3 linked regions of the Homo sapiens genome follow. The main gene of each other region encodes a partner of the protein of the gene in region 3 in a complex. Each region holds a gene or a part of one and is shown on either strand. Other genes may lie near its edges.

The links.
Region 1: STRN (region 3) and STRIP2 share a complex: the UniProt entries of both Homo sapiens proteins name them as parts of the core of STRIPAK complex.
Region 2: STRN (region 3) and STK26 share a complex: the UniProt entries of both Homo sapiens proteins name them as parts of the core of STRIPAK complex.

Annotation. Positions count from the first base shown.
Region 1 is NC_000007.14:129,451,337-129,458,448, forward strand, and holds part of STRIP2 (striatin-interacting protein 2), read left to right. Parts: intron 1-276; coding exon 277-411; intron 412-783; exon of another isoform or gene 784-880; intron 881-1,890; coding exon 1,891-2,011; intron 2,012-2,805; coding exon 2,806-2,874; intron 2,875-3,084; coding exon 3,085-3,191; intron 3,192-3,907; coding exon 3,908-4,035; intron 4,036-5,102; coding exon 5,103-5,306; intron 5,307-5,363; exon of another isoform or gene 5,364-5,676; intron 5,677-6,486; exon of another isoform or gene 6,487-6,746; coding exon of another isoform or gene 6,747-6,878; coding exon 6,879-7,112. UniProt on the Homo sapiens protein: Plays a role in the regulation of cell morphology and cytoskeletal organization. Required in the control of cell shape. Calmodulin-binding scaffolding protein which is the center of the striatin-interacting phosphatase and kinase (STRIPAK) complexes.
Region 2 is NC_000023.11:132,054,190-132,061,301, reverse strand, and holds part of STK26 (serine/threonine-protein kinase 26), read right to left. Parts: intron 6,672-7,112; coding exon 6,441-6,671; intron 1-6,440. UniProt on the Homo sapiens protein: Serine/threonine-protein kinase that acts as a mediator of cell growth. Modulates apoptosis. In association with STK24 negatively regulates Golgi reorientation in polarized cell migration upon RHO activation.
Region 3 is NC_000002.12:36,844,476-36,851,587, forward strand, and holds part of STRN (striatin), read right to left. Parts: intron 6,633-7,112; coding exon 6,525-6,632; intron 5,326-6,524; coding exon 5,239-5,325; intron 5,151-5,238; coding exon 4,981-5,150; 3' UTR 1-4,980. UniProt on the Homo sapiens protein: Calmodulin-binding scaffolding protein which is the center of the striatin-interacting phosphatase and kinase (STRIPAK) complexes.

The sequences.
Region 1 (7,112 bases), on a different chromosome or scaffold from region 3:
GAGGGAACTCCTTGAGGAAAGGCAGAAAGACAGGACAGTATGGGCTGTGTGTGGAGGACAGAGGGGATGTTGAAGGTGAGGCTATAGACTGGGTTCAGGCCAGAACATTTTGGGTCCTTTTCCCATACCTTATTCTTTCTCAGTGAAATAAGGAAAGCTTTTGGAGAAAATAATTTTGGCAGGGGAGCTGAGATCAGAGGTGGATATGCTATGAGGAGCCTTTCCAGGAAGGGTGGCAATAGCTGACACTGGATGTATATGGCCTTTTATTCCCAGTGCAGGGCAAGGAATGGCTGGAGTTGGAAGAAGATGCCCAAAAGGCCTATATAATGGGACTCTTGGACCGGCTAGAGGTGGTCAGTAGGGAACGGCGGCTGAAGGTGGCCCGGGCTGTTCTCTACCTGGCCCAAGGTGAGTGACCACCCTTGCTAGCTTTAGAGGGGTGGAGGCTTGAGAGGGAAGTGGGCATTATCAGGACTGAGATGACGCAGGCTGTGCTGGGAAAGCAAGGTTTCTTGCCTCTCAAGGACAGATCTTGTCATGTGCTAGGAGTAACCTGTGCTTATGAGGAAGATGAGATAGTGTTGAGTGCTGTTCTAGATCCCTCGGGATCTGCCTTTATCTTACCAGGTATGTCAGAATTTTTTATAGGGTTCTTCTTTTCCCTACCCTGTACTATAATCATATGTGAATACTAGCAAGAGGTGTGGCCAGAGCTGATATGTACCACCAGCTGATCATGGAGACAAGACATCAACTGTGGCCTGGCCCCAAAACTGAGGAGAAATAGGAGAGTGTCACAGATACACATGGACCCCTTGCATTGTTTCTCATTGGCATTTTGAAAGTTCAAGCCAACATAACTGCGGGAGTGGATGCTGTGAGTAATTTGGAGATGATCAGAACTAAATAGAGTAATTGGGGAAAGCTGCTCAGAAGAAACCTGTTAGCCAGGTGTTGGAAAGGGAAATGAGATAGCCTAGCTGGAGTGAAAATAAGCCTACGATCATAAATATAAGGCGTGTTAACAGAACCAACCAGTTGGGAGCTAAAAAAAAAATTGTAAAATAAAAAAATAATAAATGAAGAGGGGAAAGGGTGGACATTAGGTGAAGAGAAGACTAGCAAATAGGACTGTGCCCTCCTGTATCTCTTGGGTCTGGTGCTCTGGCCAACTTCCAACTGCCAGTACCTTCATATGTTTGCCCAAGGACTTTATTTATCTAAGTTTTTTAAAAGAAAGTCTCACTGTGTTTCCCTGGCTGGTCTTGAACTCATAGGCTCGAGCTATCCTCCTGCTCCAGCCTCCTAAGTAGCTAGGATTATAGGCATGTGCCACCATGCTCAGCTTCTGCTCAAGGGCCTTCTCTGCAGCCCATACAGGGCATCCAGGAAGTGTAGGGAATCAGTGTGCTCCTTTAGTTTAGCACCCTCATCCAATGACTAACAGGAGTTAGTGGATGGATAGCCTGACTGTCTCACCCCTCTTGGATAGAATAACTGTGAGTTGTGTGTTTTATACTGTTTCCAAATTATCCCCTGAGTGAACTCTTTGGGCTTCCTTTTCTTCCCTATCTCTACTGATGATTCCTGGGAATGATTCCCAAATAAGCTACTTGCACTGGAATCCTTACTTACCTCAGGATCTGCTTCTGGGAGAACTCACCCTTAAGACGATAGGCCATTGATGAGCACATTGGACCTAACCCTGGAGACTACCTCTCCTCTCCCCTGACTCATTCCAGGAAGTTCTTGGGGCCCCTGTCATACCTATGTCAGCCTAATTATTAGGCAGAGTATTATAGGAAAATCTTAAGATCATGGGGCAGGGTGGAAAGAACTGGGATACTGCCACCCCTCAACCCCTGTAACAACTGTCTGGTCCTTTAGGTACTTTTGGGGAATGTGATTCAGAGGTCGATGTGCTACACTGGTCCAGGTACAACTGCTTCCTGCTGTATCAGATGGGGACCTTCTCCACCTTCCTGGAGCTACTCCACATGGAAATTGAGTGAGAAGCCTTAGGGGAAGGGCTGGCCTACATAACCCCCATTCCTTAAAGGGGCCTCATGTTCTATGCTGCTTCCCTCACTATAGAGACCCCCTGTGAGGAACTGGGTCTACTCACACCTCAGCCCAAAGCTCATTGACAGTTCCCCTCCATCCAGCCATGTTCTCTGATATTCTGTTCTCCCTCCCTGAGGTTGGATACATCTGCAGCTTCTGCCTCACTTACAGCTTTAATCCTGGGCTTCAGGGGCCTATCCTGAGTGGGTTCTCTTTTTATTCAAGGACTTTCTTAGCTCAGCCTAACTCTGGAATTCAAGAGGGAAACTATTTTGAATGCATGACCCAAGAAAGACAGGAAATCAATTCCTGTCATTGTGCCCAATTCTTTCCCTCATGGGCTATAGTTCTAGAGGTGGCCTTATTTGCTGCTACCACTACAGTGACCCCTTGTTTTGTCTCATGCCCATCACCCAGGAGTTTGAGATAGGGTGCAATCTGCTTATTATTCATCAGGTGTTTCTTAGCATCTGTTTTATGTCCAGCACAGTTCTAAGCATAGTGGGGAATGCAAGAGGAGTGGATACCACAGATCCTGCCCTTGCCTTGTCTTCACCATAGATGAGAGTTTGCTGAGGTGGCAGGGGAATTCTGTCAGCTCCTTTACTCTAGACCAGTTTCATTAGTGGCTGCCTAGCCAGGGAATGGCAAGCACTCATATTTGTGTGAGTGATAAGTAAGAGCACAGAGAGAAAAGAAGTCTTATGCATTCCTGTTCTTTTTCTCCTCCCCTGGCAGCAACAGCCAGGCCTGTAGCAGTGCCCTTCGGAAACCAGCTGTCTCCATAGCTGATAGCACAGAGCTCAGGTGAGTGGGGCTAACTATGGGCTTGGAACAGGGCAGATGATTAGCACCTGGGTTACCTTTTCCCCAAATCCCAGATGACTCAGACCATTAGGAAGTTGCCCTGTAGCTAATCTCACTGGGTTGGGCTTCCCACAGAGACCATCTCTGAGGTCTGTGACTATGGGCTGGGAATTGCCTTGGGAACCTCTTGTGACTCTTCTGTAACCCCAGGGTGCTGCTGAGTGTTATGTACCTAATGGTGGAAAATATTCGCCTGGAGCGAGAGACAGACCCCTGTGGGTGGAGAACAGCCCGGGAGACCTTCCGCACTGAATTAAGTAAGAAATGGCACTTGAGGAAGGTGTGGATGGGGTGCTAATGGGAGAGGGGAAGCAGAGCATCTGCCTAGGAGAGGCAGACAGTCGTTTTTTCTTTTGTTTTCTTTTTTAAAATTAATGTCCTTTCTTTTAGGACACAGATACTGCATGGCAGGCACAAGGGCTGGGCTTGATTGCCGCCCTGTATCTATGAGCTAAGACCAGCCATGTAACTTCTCTATGCCTTGGTTTCCTTGGTTATAAGTGGGGATAGCCATTCCTCTCCCACTCTATCACGAGTCCCACATGAAAAAATGAGTTGAATCACCTTGAAAACTGAGTTCTGTTCAAATGTAAGTTGGTGTTGTCATCTGACAGGGATAGGATATGAAGGACTATGGGATTTTAAAAATATATTTATTGATGTGGAAAAGTGAATGACATTGAGTCCTTTAGCCAGAAAGCAATGTCTTCATTATTGTTACTTCTAGTTTGGCATCCAACCCCAAAGCGTCACCCTAAGCTCTGGGGCCTATGCCATTTTAATTCCATGGCGTCCCTTCCTGCCCTTGAGGGGCTTCCTTCTGGGGGCTAAGCCTCCTTCTCAGGACCAAGTACTCTGGTATTCTTCAGGGGAGGTGAGTGCCTTCCTGTGTGTGTCCAGAATCAGGGTTACATGAAAAAGGTTTTAGCTGCCTCATCCTCACTTTCTCACTCCCCTCTCTCCTCACCCCTAGGCTTCTCCATGCATAATGAGGAGCCTTTTGCCCTTTTACTCTTCTCCATGGTTACCAAGTTCTGCAGTGGCCTGGCTCCTCACTTCCCCATAAAGAAGGTCCTGCTCCTGCTCTGGAAGGTGGTCATGGTGAGTAATTCTCCCCACTCCCACATTATCAGATCAGCAATGCCCTATGCCACCTCAGTTTCTTCTAGTCTCATTCCAGGAGGCTGGATCCAGGGAGCAGAACAGGCAGCCCTTAGCCAACTGCTAATATGGAGGGGCAACAAGGCTGTCCTAGAGACATCAGATGTTCTATGTTAGAATGGGTTTCATGTTTCTATTGGATGGATGGGAGATGCCACTCCATAAATTGGGGATGTCAGTGGTACCTTCTCTTATTAAAGCCAATGTTTGATGGAGAGAACACTGGTTGAAAGTTGGTAGATCTGGGCTTTGCTGATACTGAGAAACTTTGGGCAACTCTCTGTGCCTCAATTTCTCTAGCTGTAAAAGGTTGGGGTGAGTGCCTGCCCTCCCTCCAGATAAACAGAGGTTTTGTATTTTTTTTTTAATAAAAATAATTTTTTCTTACAGACAGGCCTCCCTGTGTTGCCTGGGCTGGTCTTGAACTCCTGGTCTCAAGCAATCCTTTCACCTTGGCTTCCCAAAATGTTGGGATTACAGGCATGAGCCATTGTGCCTGGCCAGGATTTGCTTTTTAAAAAATAATGAAGTTCTTATAAATATGTGGTTACATTTCTGTTACTAGTTATTCAACCTGATCCTTCATTTTTGGCTCCCATCTCACAAGGCAGGCCTAATAGGGGGAACTGCCTCTTGACTGCAGAGGAAATTGAGTGACTCTGGGGGTTTATAGCACCTGGATGGTGTTCCTTAAAAAAGTCGATAGTTTCTTTTTTTTCTTTTTTTTTTTTTTTGAGGAGGCCCGCAGGAATTCCTTTCCTAAATTCTGTGATATTTCCCATACTGGGGCAGTAAATAATGCCTTATCCTGACCCCTGAGCTCCTCAGTTGCCGTGGGGATGGTAATCATATTTGCCTCTTTATGTTTTACTACCTCCTTATTAAGGAAAAGGTCTGAAGGGACTGGAGGTTGTGGCCCTTTCTTTTCATCCATGTTTCCCTGACCTTGGCTCTCTCTTACTTCCCTTCCTTCCTCTCTCTCTGCCCCTTTCCTGTTTCTTCCTTAGTTTACCCTCGGTGGATTTGAGCATCTGCAGACTCTCAAAGTACAGAAGCGGGCAGAATTGGGCCTGCCTCCACTGGCTGAAGACAGTATCCAGGTGGTGAAGAGCATGCGTGCTGCCTCCCCGCCCTCTTACACTCTTGACCTGGGAGAGTCTCAGCTGGCACCCCCACCCTCCAAGCTGCGAGGCCGCCGTGGCTCTCGAAGGGTATGGACTGAAGCAGACAATGGTATTGGGACACCGACTGGCCAAAAATCAAGATTCTAAGTTACTCTGGGTGTGGTAGGAAAAAGCAGTAAATGACCCGGCTCATCCTGCCCAGGTTGGCCCTATGACCAACCTGAAATCTTAGGGTCTCTAGTTTGGCCTCTGTCCCCCAGCCCTGACAGCCCCCTGCGCTGTTGTGATGTGACACTGTGATATCATGTCATATATAGCCATGTCTTGCTACAGAATCATTGGCCTGGACCTCAGTGCCTGGAGTTCCTTACATTCTGAATAACAATTAAGGGTATAATCCTGGGGATAGGGACCCAGGATACCGGAACAGGTCTCCAAGCAAATCCATTTTTCTGGGGTAAGGCATTTTACTATTTTGAAGCACCAGGAAGTTTTACTGTCAGCCAGCCACACTCTTAACTGGCCCTGGAACCAAAGGCTTACATTTAAGAGATGACTGGGTAGGGGTCTATGTATATAACCATGTGACACTAAACGACAGGGATACAATCTGAAAAATGTGTCATTATGCAATTTTGTCACTGAGCAAACATCATAGAGTGTACTTACACAAACCCAGATGGTATAGCCTACTGCACACCTAGGCATATAGCCTATTGTTCCTAGACTACAAACCTGTACAGCAGGTTACTATACCGAACACCATATGCAATTGTAACCCAATGGTGTTTGTGTATCTCAACCTAGAAAAGGCCAATAAAAATACAGTATTATAATCTTATGGGTCCACAATTACATATGCAGTCCATTGTTGACTGAAGCATCGTTGTGCAGCACATGACTATAGTCTGCTGTCCTGAAAAGGTCAGAATGAAAAGTTATACTGAGATCTGACTATGTTCTTACAAACTCCCCTGCCTGACCCACTTCAGTTTATCAACAGGGCTAGATAGTAGTGCTCAGTAATCCAGTCTCCATTATCTGCAATAAAATTTTTTAACTTTATTTTTGTTTTATAAAGTAATGCTTACTCATTGTAGAAAATTTGGAACAAATATAAAAATGTGATGAAGGGAGAAAAGAAAAATCACCCACAATCTTAACAACCAGAGACAGTCACTGTTAACTTTTTGGCCTATTTCTGTCCAATCTTTTTTTCTTTGTCACAAGATTTAAAATTCCAAACTTGCTTCCCTCTGCCTAGCAGCAAGCTTCTGTCCTCCTCTTCCTCAGTCAGCCAGCTGGTGTATGCTCACAGAAGGCAAACTAATTGAATGTTCACCTAAGCAGAGCATAATTAGGAAGGAAAGTGCTGGCAAAAAAAGGCATCACTGCTTTCTGAAAGCTAAGTAATTGTGACTTTGGGATTATCTATGCTATGTTCCCTGGCTAATGGCAGGGTTACCTGAGAACTTCTTGTCCTGTTATTGGGCCGGGTGGGGACAGTAGGTTAAGGTGGGGAATTGGATGTTTTCGCAAGGGCTGTGTTCAGATTCCATGTTCCCTGAAATGTGGAGGCCTGTGGATATGGGGTGGCCTCAGACAAGGATGCCCAGAGTGAGATCTCTGCATGCCTACCCTCCCTTCTTTCCCCTCCAGCAACTCCTCACTAAGCAGGACAGCCTGGACATCTACAATGAAAGGGATCTCTTCAAGACTGAGGAGCCCGCCACAGAGGAGGAAGAGGAGTCTGCTGGTGATGGAGAACGAACCTTGGATGGAGAGCTAGACCTGCTAGAGCAGGACCCTCTGGTGCCACCTCCACCCTCACAGGCACCCCTCTCTGCTGAGCGGGTGGCTTTTCCCAAGGGCCTGCCCTGGGCCCCAAAGGTC
Region 2 (7,112 bases), on a different chromosome or scaffold from region 3:
TGGTTCTTACAATGGTGGATAGGTTAAAAATTGTTTCTTCTGCCACAAGTTTGTTTCTAACAAGTACTATACTCTATCATATGAATTCAGAGAGCTTCCCATTCACCTGACATTTAAAAGAAAAAGATCTTATAAAACATGCCTGCCTATTTTGCAGTTCTGCATGAATGAAAGCACCTGTTTTCCAAGTTAAAAACAATGTGTGCCTTTTTGTTTGTACTAATTCAAAACAGAAACTTGCCAACTGTCTGTCAGTAAAACGTGTTCATAGAAAGCTTGAAATGTGACTTTACAAAGTAGTATATACCATTAAGCATTAAAATTACAACTACTCAATTTCTAGATCTGAAAATAAGGAATCCTTATTTGTTCTGGAAATCAGTGGTGGTGAGGGCTGCACAACACGCCTGTAATCCTGGTATTTTGGGAGGCCGAGGTGGGAGGATCGCTTGAGTCCAGGAGTCTGAGAGCAGTCTAGGCAACATAGGGAGTCCTCATCTCTACAAAAAGTGCAAAAAAGTAGCCAGGTGTGGTGGCATATGCCTGTAGTCCCAGCTACTCGGGAGGCTGAGGTGGGAGGATCAATTGAACCTGGGAGGTGGAGGCTGCAGTGGGCCAAGACTGCGCCACTGTACTCCAGCTCGGGAGACAGAGTGAGACCCTGTCACAAAAAAAAAGCAAAACAAAAAAACAAAACAAAAAAAAAACCACCCAAAAAACAAACAAACAAAAAAAACACAAAATCAATGTGAATGTAGCCAATGCCAGAGAGCTGTACACTTAAAATGGCAAATTTAGTGTTAAGTATATTTTGCCTGATTAAAAAAAACATACAGCACATAAGACTTTATAAAACTGGAAGTGACAGTAGAGATCATCTTGCCAAGAATATGGCTAGAAAATTTACCACTTCTGAGTCATTTTCCTCCAGCTTGGAATGCTGTGTCCCTACCCCACTTGCACCTTCCAACCCCTATCAAAATCATTCTCAAGACTTAGTTCAAATGCTACCTCCCTAGTTTGAGGGTTATTGCACTTGATGTACTCACAGATAAGCAGGCTATTAATATGAAGCAAGTTATAAACACATATCTGGGGCTGAGCAGAGAGGATGAAACCAGAGACATCAGTTTAGAAGTTGTCAGACGAAAGTAGATGAGATTAACCACAATATGCAAAAGAAGAGGAATACACATAGTAGGCATTAATAAATAAGCGTCTGTTGAATTGAATCTAACATGGGGCTTCTTAGAGGTGTATTATATTAAGTTTAAAGCTATTCCTATTTTGAGAAAAGAACATTTTAAGAAGGAACAAACTTTCTAGCCTCCATTTTCTTCAAGTTTTATAAGAGAACTCCAAAACAAATGTTAACAATAAAAGAATATTCCAGAGGCATTGAGCATACATAAACTGGCTGTAAGCACATACAGTTTCAGTGAAAAATAAGGAGAAGGCCACAAAGCCGTACAGATGATTCTGAAATATTTTACTTCATTCAATTCTTTTTTTTTTCATAAATACTGGTGATGGTGGGTGGGAGGCAATATTTCCTTAACATACACAGAAATCTAAAGGCAATTTTCAGCAGCAAATAAAGGCATGATTCAAATTCTATTCAATGCCTGAGTGTCATTTTAAGATTTACACTGAACTAGAAAAATATTTAAAGATTATAAAAGATTATTCCAATATTATGAGATCAGAAGGGAAGGGTTTGCTTATTTTAGCACTCTTCATAAAGACTAACTTTGTCAAGAAAATCTGCCCAGTGAACTAAAATTAAAGGAAAACACTGTGGTCATACTGATGTGTTTGTCTGGTTTTTAACTCTTGTTTTCAAAAATGAAGTTATACAGTGAGCTTAGTCAAAATGAATACCTAGTACATTTTTTGCATGTCTCAAGGAAATCACTACAACTGCATACAGTTTCAAAGAACATATAATTTTCTCTCAAATGTAATAAACTTTTCCTCCAGCTTACAGTGAGGTCTTAGTTATGGATGACATCCTGTGTAAGAACAACCCATTTCCCAGTTTGCTCAATTAACTTGACTCACAAAATCCTCCATGTCACCTGAAATGGAACAATGGGCCACAATAAGTATGTAAGTTGACTGATAACACAGTTCCCTGATGGCACAAAGAGGATGTGGCCTTGACTTATGTTGACTACATGAAACAGAATCCTGTTATATTTGACGTGATTTTAGTTTAGAAAAAAATACAAACCCACACAGTCATACTATGTTGTAATATAAATGGAAAATAAATGAGTTGGTCAATTTAAGAAAGTGATTTAAATACATGGTATGAAAACGTTGTAAGATTATAGAATATTTCTTTCTCTGTGTGTATATACATATGTCTCAAGACATATGTATATACACACAGATTTATTTACTTTAAATAGATTCAGAACACAAATAATCAACATAAGCCAGCTGCACATTTCTACAATTTTATCATGAAGCAACATGTTCTTCAAAGTAGTGTTTTATATCATAGAGTTTAGTTAATGATGGGTGAAGGAGATAAAAATAATTTGATTTAATCCCTTAAGAAGCTATCTTGGACGATGGTTTTGTAGCACTGGCTGGTCTGAGTACACTTTACAATCAAAATTTGGGACAAACAAAAAACTAGTTTTTAATTATTTAAAGATTAAGTAAATACTGGGTGACTAGTACATGTATACTACTGTGCAACTTAAAAAACACTCTATATGAAATCTTAGGAAAAGAAGATAGAGCTGTCACTCATTTTCCATGGGAGTATTGAATATGAATAAATAAGCAACCAATAAAATTGTCAAACCATATCAGTACCAATTTTCAATATATTATGGAATAGCCATTTTAAATAGGGCGTATTTAATATTTTAGGTCAGCAACCAAAAATAGTGTTTTTGTCACAGGTGCCTAAAAGTAGCAAGGATTCAGTTTTGCCCTAGAGTGAGTCTGGAAATACCGGGATTCAGTCCAGAAAGAGTAAACCAGAATGAGCAAATGATACACACACAGACACACACACACACACACACACATACACACACACGCACACACACACATGTACCACCAAGGAATTGTATGGGAATTAGGAGGAGAACCTAAAACTACTGAGACTGCGTAATCACTCATGAGATCTCTAAAAAAGAATATGATGGGCTGAATTAGCTTTTTAGGAACAAATATGACAGCAAAATTATCACACAAAGGAGCAAATAATTATGTATGTAGTAAAATACAGTAATAGCTAACACTTAGATGTAAATGCTGAAATTGGATAGAAATTACTAGCATTATCACCTCCTTTTGGAGGCCTTTTATTCATGCCACTCCTGAAAAGGACAGAAGTGACTACTTACTAATTTGTGCATCATCTATACCTTGTACATACTTTAACCATAAAATTGGCATCATTTCAGTGCAAAACTGGACTGTGAGTGCCTTGACAGCAGTAGTGAGTTTGTTCACTTTTATATCTTCAGCACCTAATACAGTGTGTAATATATAGTGGCTGTTTGGCTGCTTAATGATTCATTCTACTATGCATTCATACCACATACATCCAATATTAGAATAAGTCGGGTTTTGTAAACAGGCAGTGAAATTTGTGATAAATTTCTATATCAGTATTAACCAATATAGATACAGATAGATGGAAAGCGATGACAAAGTCACCAAGACGGCAGAGGAGATACCAGTTTTAATCATCCCCTCCCTCCACATATACATAAAAAGCCCCCAAATATAGACAGCTATCCACAAACCCAAGTAACTCTGGAAGGATTCAAGGGCCTATTTAACAATCTGCAGCAACACAGTGGAGCAAAAAAGAAAGAATAACTCCACAGGAAGGATCACTGAGGAGATCAGCATACCTGAGAGGCCAGGAAATGTCTAGGAACAAAGATGAAAGGTGGAGGCTATTGGTATCACTACACAGTAGAAGCCATCATGGTCCCCAGTGGCCTGCTCTGCAGAGGACACTGGCATCTCTTGCTACTGAGGTAGTCAACAGCCATTTCTGCCAGGGAACCCCAAGAGGAATACATGACTACAAAACTCTCTCATCTCAAGAAGAAGACATTGTTGAGCCACATGGAGAAAGAAGCCACCACTCTGAAAACTGATGCAGCTCCAGACCTCTGAGTCATGGCCACTCCACTAGTGCCCACACTCCAGACCCAGATTCTGCGTCTTCACTGAGCTCAACCATACCTCAGACATTGGAGCCACTGCCACAGTGAGCTAGCTCACACCCCAGGGCCCCGGAGCCAAGGTTTCTCTGAGTGTGCCTATGCTCCAGACATCCACACAGTCACCACTGAAAGCTAGCCTGTGTTCTGGACTCCAGACCAGCTGAGTGGTTGCACTGGACCCACCCACAGCTCAGACACTTGAGCTAATCACTGCCATAGTGAGCTAGCTCACATCCCAGGCTCTGGAGACAAGGTCCCTCTGAGCGTGCCTATGCTCCAGACATCAGCTCAGATGTTACAAATAGCTAGGCCCTACGCCACCCTCAGAGCCACTGTAGCTCTGTGCAGCAGTAGGGGGTATTTGTACCTAGGACGTTGGTATTACTATTGGCTTGGGCCCCAGAGCATGTCCCTCCAGATATGCCTATGCTTGAAGCCTTAGTTCTGTGGCCACTCCATGGGCATCACTCATTAGACACTAGTGCCACCTCAAGTGGGCCCACAAGCAGACCCAATGCCAAAAGGGATCTACTCGGCTATGATTTCTCTGGTGGAAGAAAAAGAGACTGGGGGGACCCTAGCAGCTCTTGCCACCAAAGACCTCAAACAGCCCTCACCACTGTTGTAGACAACCAAGGTATTGACCACTGAGGATCCCTGCAATCTTTGTCAACACTAATCTCAAGTGACAAAGCTGCACAGGAACTATACTCCTATGCCCTCATTGGAGCCAGAACCACTGCAACCCACCCAGCCATTGCTCTCACACTGTCCTACAGAGGAAGAAGGTCTTTTCACACTGAAACCTGTAATGTCTGGAAGAGGCGATTGCTCTATCAACTGCAGAGACATCAACATAAGGCAATAATAAACATGAAAAACCAAGGAGACATCTCACCACCAAAAGAACACAGTAGTTTCCCAGTAGCTGACTCCAAATAAATGGAGATTTATAAACTGCCTGACAAATAATTTAAAATAATTGTGTCAAGGAAGCTCAGCAAACTTCGAGAAAATACAAAGAAACAAGTGAAATCAGGAAAACAATAAATGAACAAAATGATAAATTTAACAAGTAGATTAAATCATTTTAAAAACTCAGAAATTTCAAAGCTGAAAAATACAATGAATGAAATGAAACAATACAATAAAGTGTCAATAGCAGAACTGATCAAACAGAAGAAAGAATCTGTGAACTTGAAGACAGGTTATTTCGTAAAGGTATAGATGGATATCCGAAGTTTTATTTGGTCAGCAGAGGATAAAATGATAGCATTAATTTTTACGCAGGCCAACAGCTTAATTAGTTATAGATACGCTCTTTTTGGCCTATAGATCAACCAGTAACAACAAACACTTCCCTCCTTTTAAACCCTGAATGGCAAAGATCTAGCACAGCCTTCATTTGAAAAACTGCAATACAAGGATAAACAATTTTAATTTTAAAATGATTCAAACTCCAAACTAAGCTAGAGTTCATGGGGGCTTTTCTTCAACTATTTATTATTCACATTTCAACAGACACGAATCCTGACTTCTAACTCTGGAACCCAAGGACCACTGGGTTTTACCAACCAGTTTTCTGCTATGTAGTAACACCTCCATCTGCTGGAACTTCAGGTGTCTGCTAATCCCATGATCCTGGAACCAGTAAAAATCCAACTTTTATTTGGAGGGGGAGGCAGATGTTATTCCACTTAATTCCATTTTAACAAATATTTACCACATGCTTAAGATGTACCATACCCTGTGCTAAGGAATGTAAGTACCAGGACTGGTTAAGCTAAACTCCCTGCTATGAAGGAGCTCACAACCTGGTGGGGGAGAGAAATGTGTAAATAACTACCATAACTCAATGAAATAAGTGACATACTTACATGTTCCATCAGCTCTGAGGTTGAGACAGTTAAGACCATTGAGAATAGTGTCTGGAAACCCAGGGGGATAGCTCTTTCCTGACAAAGGAGATGTCTCCAGGACCAGCTGCATTTCTGCTCCTCCATCAAACCAAAAGTTCAGGTGTGGAAAAGGGGTGCAGCTGAGTACTGGGATGCATTCAGAATACAGCTGCTAAATCTAACAACGGTTTATTTGGCACTATAAATGGAGCTGGATTCTGCCTGGAAGCCATAGACTGCCAAATCCTAATTTAAGACATTGCCTTTCAAAAAAATAGAATTAAAAAACTTCTAATGAAAATACCTTATGACTTAAATAATACAGCACACACATTACCTTTAAATATGACCCATAGTATTTTGTTACATATGAGCTGTCACATTGACTCAAGACAGTTATTTCTTGCTGAATGTCTTCTATTTCATCTTCGGCTTCCTCAAGGTCTATGATTTTAATAGCAACGACTTGCTGGGTACGGTTATCAATTCCTTTGAAAACTTCCCCAAATGAGCCTTTCCCAATGCGCTCTAATTTTGTGAACAGTTCTTCTGGATCAGCTATGTTATTCTGAAGGGAGTGGGGAACGAGAAAAAGAAAGAACACAAATGTTTTGAATCAAATTTTTTTAATGAAGGAAAATAAATCACATAAGACAATAACACATTTTTGTAAAAGCATACAAACTCCTCTGACTCCCCACATGTGCTTTGTTAGAACAACTGTAATCCCAAACAGGCAGCTAGTCCATATTCTAGTGAATCATACACACTAACTGAGCTTAGCTGATCCTGCTATCACAAACATTCTCACACAGCAAATATATCCAGTGCATGCCAAAACATCAGGCACTTTTTGGAATAAAGCCGCTGATTATACACAGTTTACACATTAATGCAAATGTAGCAATAGTGGGAGAATATCTAACCTAAGCTAAGGTGAACTGTTTAAGTTTCTAACATTCTGCCAATATTACCTTTTAACACTCCTCTCTCTCCAACTCGGATATCC
Region 3 (7,112 bases):
AGGCAGACATTAGAATCTAAATTAAAATGATTTTGAAAATTTGCATCAGAGAGATGACAAGCATGTGGTCCTGGTTAAATTAAATCTAAAGCTTGGATTAGCAAAGATCCAGAAAATTCTGACCCCCTAAGCACCACTTTAGGAATACCGCCAGAATCAATGAGTGGGATCTAGGGATCTGTTTGGCCTAACATTTGTTTTTTTTAGAATTAAAAAAACAAAACAAAAACTGAAAGGATCTGTTAAATACTTTGTCAACCTGGCATCCCTGACACTGACATGAAGATCCAGTTGGATGATGGATATTGCCAATTAAAAAGTTTGTAGTGGCAAAAGTAAAAATGATTCAAATTGACGAATGACCTGTCCTTTGTTTTTAAACACAGATACGTTTTTCTGGGCCTTTCTCTAAAATGAACTTTAGGGCTTGATACATTTCACAAAAATATACATATTTTTCGTCAGCTACTACTTTGTATACAACCTGAATCCCAGTGTCCAACACTTAAAAGTACTGCAATTATATAAATTACTAAACAAGTTAACAGTAATGGAGAGGCAACTTCTGAGTAAATAAAATGAATGATTATGTACTTAATAGCCTTGTAGTCACTTTCAAAGAATAAAGTAATCTAAATAAAATTATACTTAGCACTCTTTTTCATGTAAGTTCAATAATTATTTGGCTATTGGTTGAAAACATCACACAGACAGACACCAACCAAAGATTCATTATCTCCACTCGCTAAAAACATTGATGGTTAATTTTAAGCAATTCTTTCAAAGAAAAACAAAATTAATTCTAAGCCTTTCAGTCTGATTTGTGACATCTTAATACAATATAACTTAAATGACAAAGCCTGAGAAAAGCACCAACATAGATTTTTTTTTAATTGCATCCAACCATCATTTCAGATGTCATAAAGATTTGCTTCAGTTAAAATGGCAGCAATGACAAAGAGGTAGATATGAGAGATGCTTTTTAAATATTTTAAGACTATTCTTAGGTGGAATTTTAACTAGTTCAGGTATTTAACCTAAAAATATTTACTAGTTGAATCTTTACCACATAAGAACTTCATGACATGCTGTTTTGTAAGAGGGAAATATATGAAGTATTAAAAAGTGAGCCTTTAAAAAATTACATTTACTTAGCCAACATTAATGAGATCCCATAATTTTGGTGAACAAATAATTTCTCCTTCTACCTGAACTTTACTATAATTAAAGAATAGCTATTGTTTTCTCTACTGAAATTTCTAGGAATTCACATTCAAAATTCTTGGAAAGTATATATGGTGCTCAGAAGAGCACAAAGCGCATGAAATGTCCCCTGAAGTCCTAGAAGTTGAGCAGATACATTAAAAAGACATTGATGGTCACAAATCAGGACCTTCACAGATTGGTAAACACACACACACACACACACACGCATGCATGCACACACACACACACACACACACACACACACACACACTAACTCTCTCTCTCTCTCTGTGCCCCCCCTCCCACCCCCTCCCCAAACTCAATCTTCATCCTCACTGTAAGGCTGCATTTTTTTTTTTAAAGGCACCTCTCATTTTCTAGCTATTGCCTTCTTGATGATATTTGTTTTTGTTAAAAAGTCTGAATGTTCAATGGAAATAGTTCAGTACTGAGAATAAAATATTTTTCAATTCACATTTGAATAGCCAGGTTTTCTTACATTCAGATTTTAATACACTAGAATGACAGTCTTTAAAACAAGCATGCTAGCCTATAATGAATATTGTATATACAGTAATTTAAACACTTAGAACTATATATTATACTGCAAAAGCAAACAGCACAACACTCATCATACTCATCATTATCTGCTGTGTATACTACCTCCAAAAATGAAAATACAAAACAGTAAAATGCACCTATGGTTTATATATATATATATATATATATATATATATATATATATATAGTTTATATATTATATATATTCTTACAATATATATAATATATATTTATAAAATATACATACATTTTAGACATTTTCAAATAAATCTTCATCATTATCTCCAAAAGAAATTTATAGCAAGAATACTGAAGGAATGAAAGTCAGATTAAAAAAAAAATTTCTCACAAAGTTCATCATCAGTGATGCAGCTCAATTTCCCCCGTTTTAGTCATAACTAAAATGATTATAAAAGCGAAATATTTTGCATAACTAAGTATTTGTTTAATGGCAAAAGTTGTTAAACTTGTTCAATAGAAAAATACTGAAGGTCATTATATCACTTTTGTTAAATAATCTGTCTATGGTTTGAGTAGCAAATGAGCTCCATATGACAGTTGAGTTTTGAGAAGGGTGCTGCAAGCTCCCAGAGATGTATCCACAGCATATGAAAATAAGGCAGGGATCCAAACCTCCCGCTAATTTTCATACTATTCCAATACATTTCAAACAAAATATTTACAAATGAAGCACTATGAAAGCATTTCAATGGCTGTTTAAACATTGAATTTGTTCATTCTGTGAATTTTCATTGAATGTTCAACAGGCTAGGGGAAAAGTCAGACACATGTATATGCTACTCTGGTTGGAAGACAGCTTTGGCTCATTTCTAGGCTGAGATCATGCAGTGCTGGTAGAGAAGACTCTCTCCGTAGTCTCCAATGCCACAGCACTGGCTTTCTAAGGAACTTTCAACAGTTCCATTTGCGCTACAGTCTATGTATCTCATGGTTATTTTCCACTCACTGACAGAAAAATTTCAACCATGAAGCATAAAATGAACGGGGGAAGAATGTCCTGGTTTTTAGAATTTCAGTGACATTAATAAAGCAGTAACTGAAGATCTTAGAAGGTAATTAATAACTGGTAGAACAATAGCTTTGTGGTCATCCATCATAAATACACCAAGTAATGGCATCTTCCTTCCTTCCTTCCTGGAAGGAATTTTCCAGTATCCTTCTACAAATGTTAGGTTAGAAACATTCTTTCTTCACTGTGAAGAACCAAAAGAAATTTACTGAACACAATATGGAATTCTGTATCTGCATGGAAATATTAAGTATTCACCTGACAGCTCATGTTTAGGTCAATTCATTTAATTACACAAAGCAGTCTCTTGAGCCTGCTTGTTAACCAAAGCACAAAGATGAAATGAAAAGGTAGCTGTATTACTACAGCATATCTGTATGAAAATCAGGCAAATTTAGCACAAGTCTCTAGCTTTAAAGAAAATTTGCCTGTATAATGCAGAATTCTAGAGGCAAACAGGCAGAAATTTTACAGAAATATTTGTCAATCATTAGCCACACCACCACCAGAATACTTTTTCAAGGAGTAGATGTACGTATCATGAGAAGCATCATTGTTATGACGATGGAAAATGTGGGGAATGGAATATGTAGAAATTGTTTTAATTGGTTAAAATATCTATAGATTTAATATTTTTAAAATCTAAGAGCCTATTTATATGTTTTTTGGTGGAAAGTTGGACGTTAATAATTTATTTCCAATTTCTAGATTGGTCTCTGTCATTTGGGACAAAGAGTAAGAGAGACATAAACCACTATAGAAATAATGTCTTTATGACAGGAGACTAGGTCTAGATAGCAGGGTCTTCAGAATCCCAAAAGGTGAACACATGTAGGTGGGTCACAGGTAAGTTGGGCTGGGGAAGCCTGGCCTTTTAAGGTGTGGATTTCCCCAGAAACAATACTGATCCACTGCCCATTAAAACATGTATATCTCAATTAAACAATGGGGGAGGAATAGGGAGAGAGAAAGACAGAACTTTTTAGCCAATATTTGGCATTAAACTCTTTCATCCAGGTTTCCAGGAGATTCTTACAGGGATTAATAGAGGACTTCTAGGGTACAAAATATTTGTTTTTATTAGTGCTTCTGCAAAAGCAGCTGCGTGAAGTTAACCATACTCTTTGGGCTATTAATAATTATGAACTGTTCTTGGTAGATGTCAGATAACTTGAACGTGACAAAGAAGAAAGAGCACAGATCATCTGAAGCATGATTAGGTGGGTGTTGATAAATGATTATTAGCAAATAAATTCTATCTTTTCAGTCACTGAAAAGTAAGATTTCATTGGTATGAAATAATCACTCTGGTACTATAAATGTCACATGAATAAAGTGAATTTTAAAATAGAAATTATTAAAGAGATATGCCCTGTTTACCCTTAAAAATAAACAGAATTTCAAACCTGAATAAGTTAAATCTGTTAGTAAAAGCAGAGTCGATCAACTATTCTTCACAATGGTGAGTGCTTGATAGCTAAACTTTAGAATGATACCAAATCTGTTTTCAAAACTGTAATACAATATAGAAATCTGCTTGCAAACTATTTGTCTAGCATTTCTGAATAATAATATATTTAACATATTATTGCATTTTTCTCCCCCTAACAGGTAAAATGCTTTGCCAGGTGCTTTATGTGAACAGCTGAAAGGAGAGTCAAATTAAAAACTCAGTTTAACACTGCCTGGTCATTATACACAAAGGGGTTAATATGGCAGATATGATAAAGATTACTATTTTGACTACTTAATGTGTTTTAACAAGATTTCTCAGGGGAGAACTTGGTCTAAGTTTCCCGTTTTCTTCTATTCAGTCCCAGCTATCAAGCTTTTAAATTATCCATTGTAGCATGCCCTACTTACTCAACAGGGACAAGCTAAACTTGTATTCGCTCAGGCCTGCCTAGCGAATTAGAACCACCTCAGAAATAAAGGCGCCTATTGGGGAGAAATTTGAAACAGACCTCAGGCTCACAGATTCAGCTGAGCTTGCAGCAACCTGAACAAACCTTAGTTTTAGAAAACAGTATATGAATTGCAAAACTATACTTCAACAAATGTTCTCTGTGCTCCTTCAGCAGAACAAAAGGGCAGGACGAGATGATTCTTGCCCTCGTCTTCTGTATCTCTTGTGTGCAGTTGATTACTTATAAACAGCTAGAAGGTGAAGATGATGCATTGCGTCATACAAAGACTTTAGCCAGTGCGTCAGCTCCAGCACTGGCTATATAGCATTTGGATGGGTGGAAAGCTACATCATGAATCGATTCTTCAAACTTTTTTCGATGAGCTGTGAATTCTTGGATACACGTCTTACTTTCTAGATTCCATAAACGTATTGAACAGTCATGACCTATATCCAAAAAAAAAATTAAAAGGAAAAATTACATTAACATGAAAATGGTAAGGACAAATAAATAATCCATAGTTGAGGTACTTACTGCCAGACATCAAGTAAAGGCCATTGGGATCAACTGCTAAACTTGTAACAGCTTCTAGGTGGGCTACCATCGAGTGGATCAGTTTGCCTTTGGAAAAAGAGATTGTTACTCCTTATTAATGCCTTTCCTCATCTTCAATATTTGCCAGCTACCATGTCCTGCTGGTTTCTCCAGTCATCCCTCTCTGTGTGCTTACTGTATTAATAGCTTTTTCCATCACCTAAAACAACATGTCTCCCTCTTGCCTCTAGTCATGGCAATGATATGGAAAACCAAAAAAAGCTCAAATTTTAGATTACACTTTTGTCTTTTAAGCCACGATATGGAAGTCAGTAATTTCTACACGCAACCCTTAAGCCACGTTTGTTAATTAGAACTTAGACATTATTAATCACCTACTTTGCATTCTTTAGCTACTGGCAAATTATGAGTTGTGGAAACACAGAATTCAAATTCACAGAGAGAAAACAATGAGGCAAGGAAAAAGGGACAGAAAGAAAACATGGCCACAATTTTGGTGGATACAACATACAGAAAAAAATTTTAAATATTAAATGATTCATCACCAGCAGCTAAACAAAGTCAGCAGAAGTCAACATATTAACAAGGCAGATACTTAGGTAAATATGGCAGCTAATATAGGGTGCTTTCCTCCCAGCACAGTGCTTCCTAAATTTCCTTTATACTGGTGAAATGTAATAAAATAAAACTTGGGCAAATCTCCATGCACAATTCAAATCAATGAGGACCAACCAGTCAGTTTTATAATACAGAAAAGATTAGTCTATGGAAAAACGAATACAATGACCTGGAGGTTTTCCATCCGCAACACTAAAAAAGGCTATTTGGTAATGGAATAATTGAATATTGAATAATGCTATTCAATAACTGAACAACTTTAAACAAAATATAATGACCATATGCCTCTATTTCCAATGTTTCTACTTTTCCCCAATATATAATACTACAATAGATCATAGCAACAGATCATTTTTATTTGTATTTGAGTGAACTTTTCCTGGTGTCCCTAGTGATAACCTTGGCTCTAAAGCCTACATATAGCATCTGCTCACTATTAAATAAACCAAAATGATTCTGTATTGTATAATAAAGACTAGTCTTAGCAGATTTGGATAGAGTGAAGAGAAACTGAGACGGGAGAGTATTTGGGGTTCAGTGCCTATTCCCTGACTACGAAACCACCAAGAGACACCAAAATTAGCCTACTTGTGGTAGGGATTTTTTTTTTTTGCTTTAATAAAAATCAATTCTTAATAAATTCTTACCTGTATTGTTATCATAGAATTTGATGTGCCTGTCTTCATGAGCAGTGATGCTGATCGGAAGAGTAGGATGACTGATGACTCTATTTATTTGGCAGGAAGAGTTGGCTGCTAAAAAGAAAAAATTAAAAAGCAACACAACTTAGTCAAAGATATTTTTCACACAAAGGAGAACTGAATTATCTATCTAAGAGACTGAAAAAGTAGGCCGGCCGCGGTGGCTCACGCCTGTAATCCAAGCACGTTGGGAGGCCAAGGTGGGTGGATCACGAGGTCAGGAGATCGAGACCATCCTGGCCAACATGGTGAAACCCTGTCTCTATTAAAAATACAAAAATTAGCCGAGTGTGGTGGTGCGTGCCTGTAGTTCCAGCTACTCAGGAGGCTGAGGCAGGAAAATCACTTGAACCCGGGAGATGGAAGTTGCAGTGAGCCGAGATCGTGCCACTGCATTCCAGCCTAGGTGTCAGAGCGAGACTCCATTTCAAAAAAAGAAAAGAAAAAAGAAAAAGAAAAAGTAATAATGTGACTTTCATTATTTGTCTTTAGTTCATTTATTCTGTGACTGTTTTCAAAATTTCAATGTTAGGA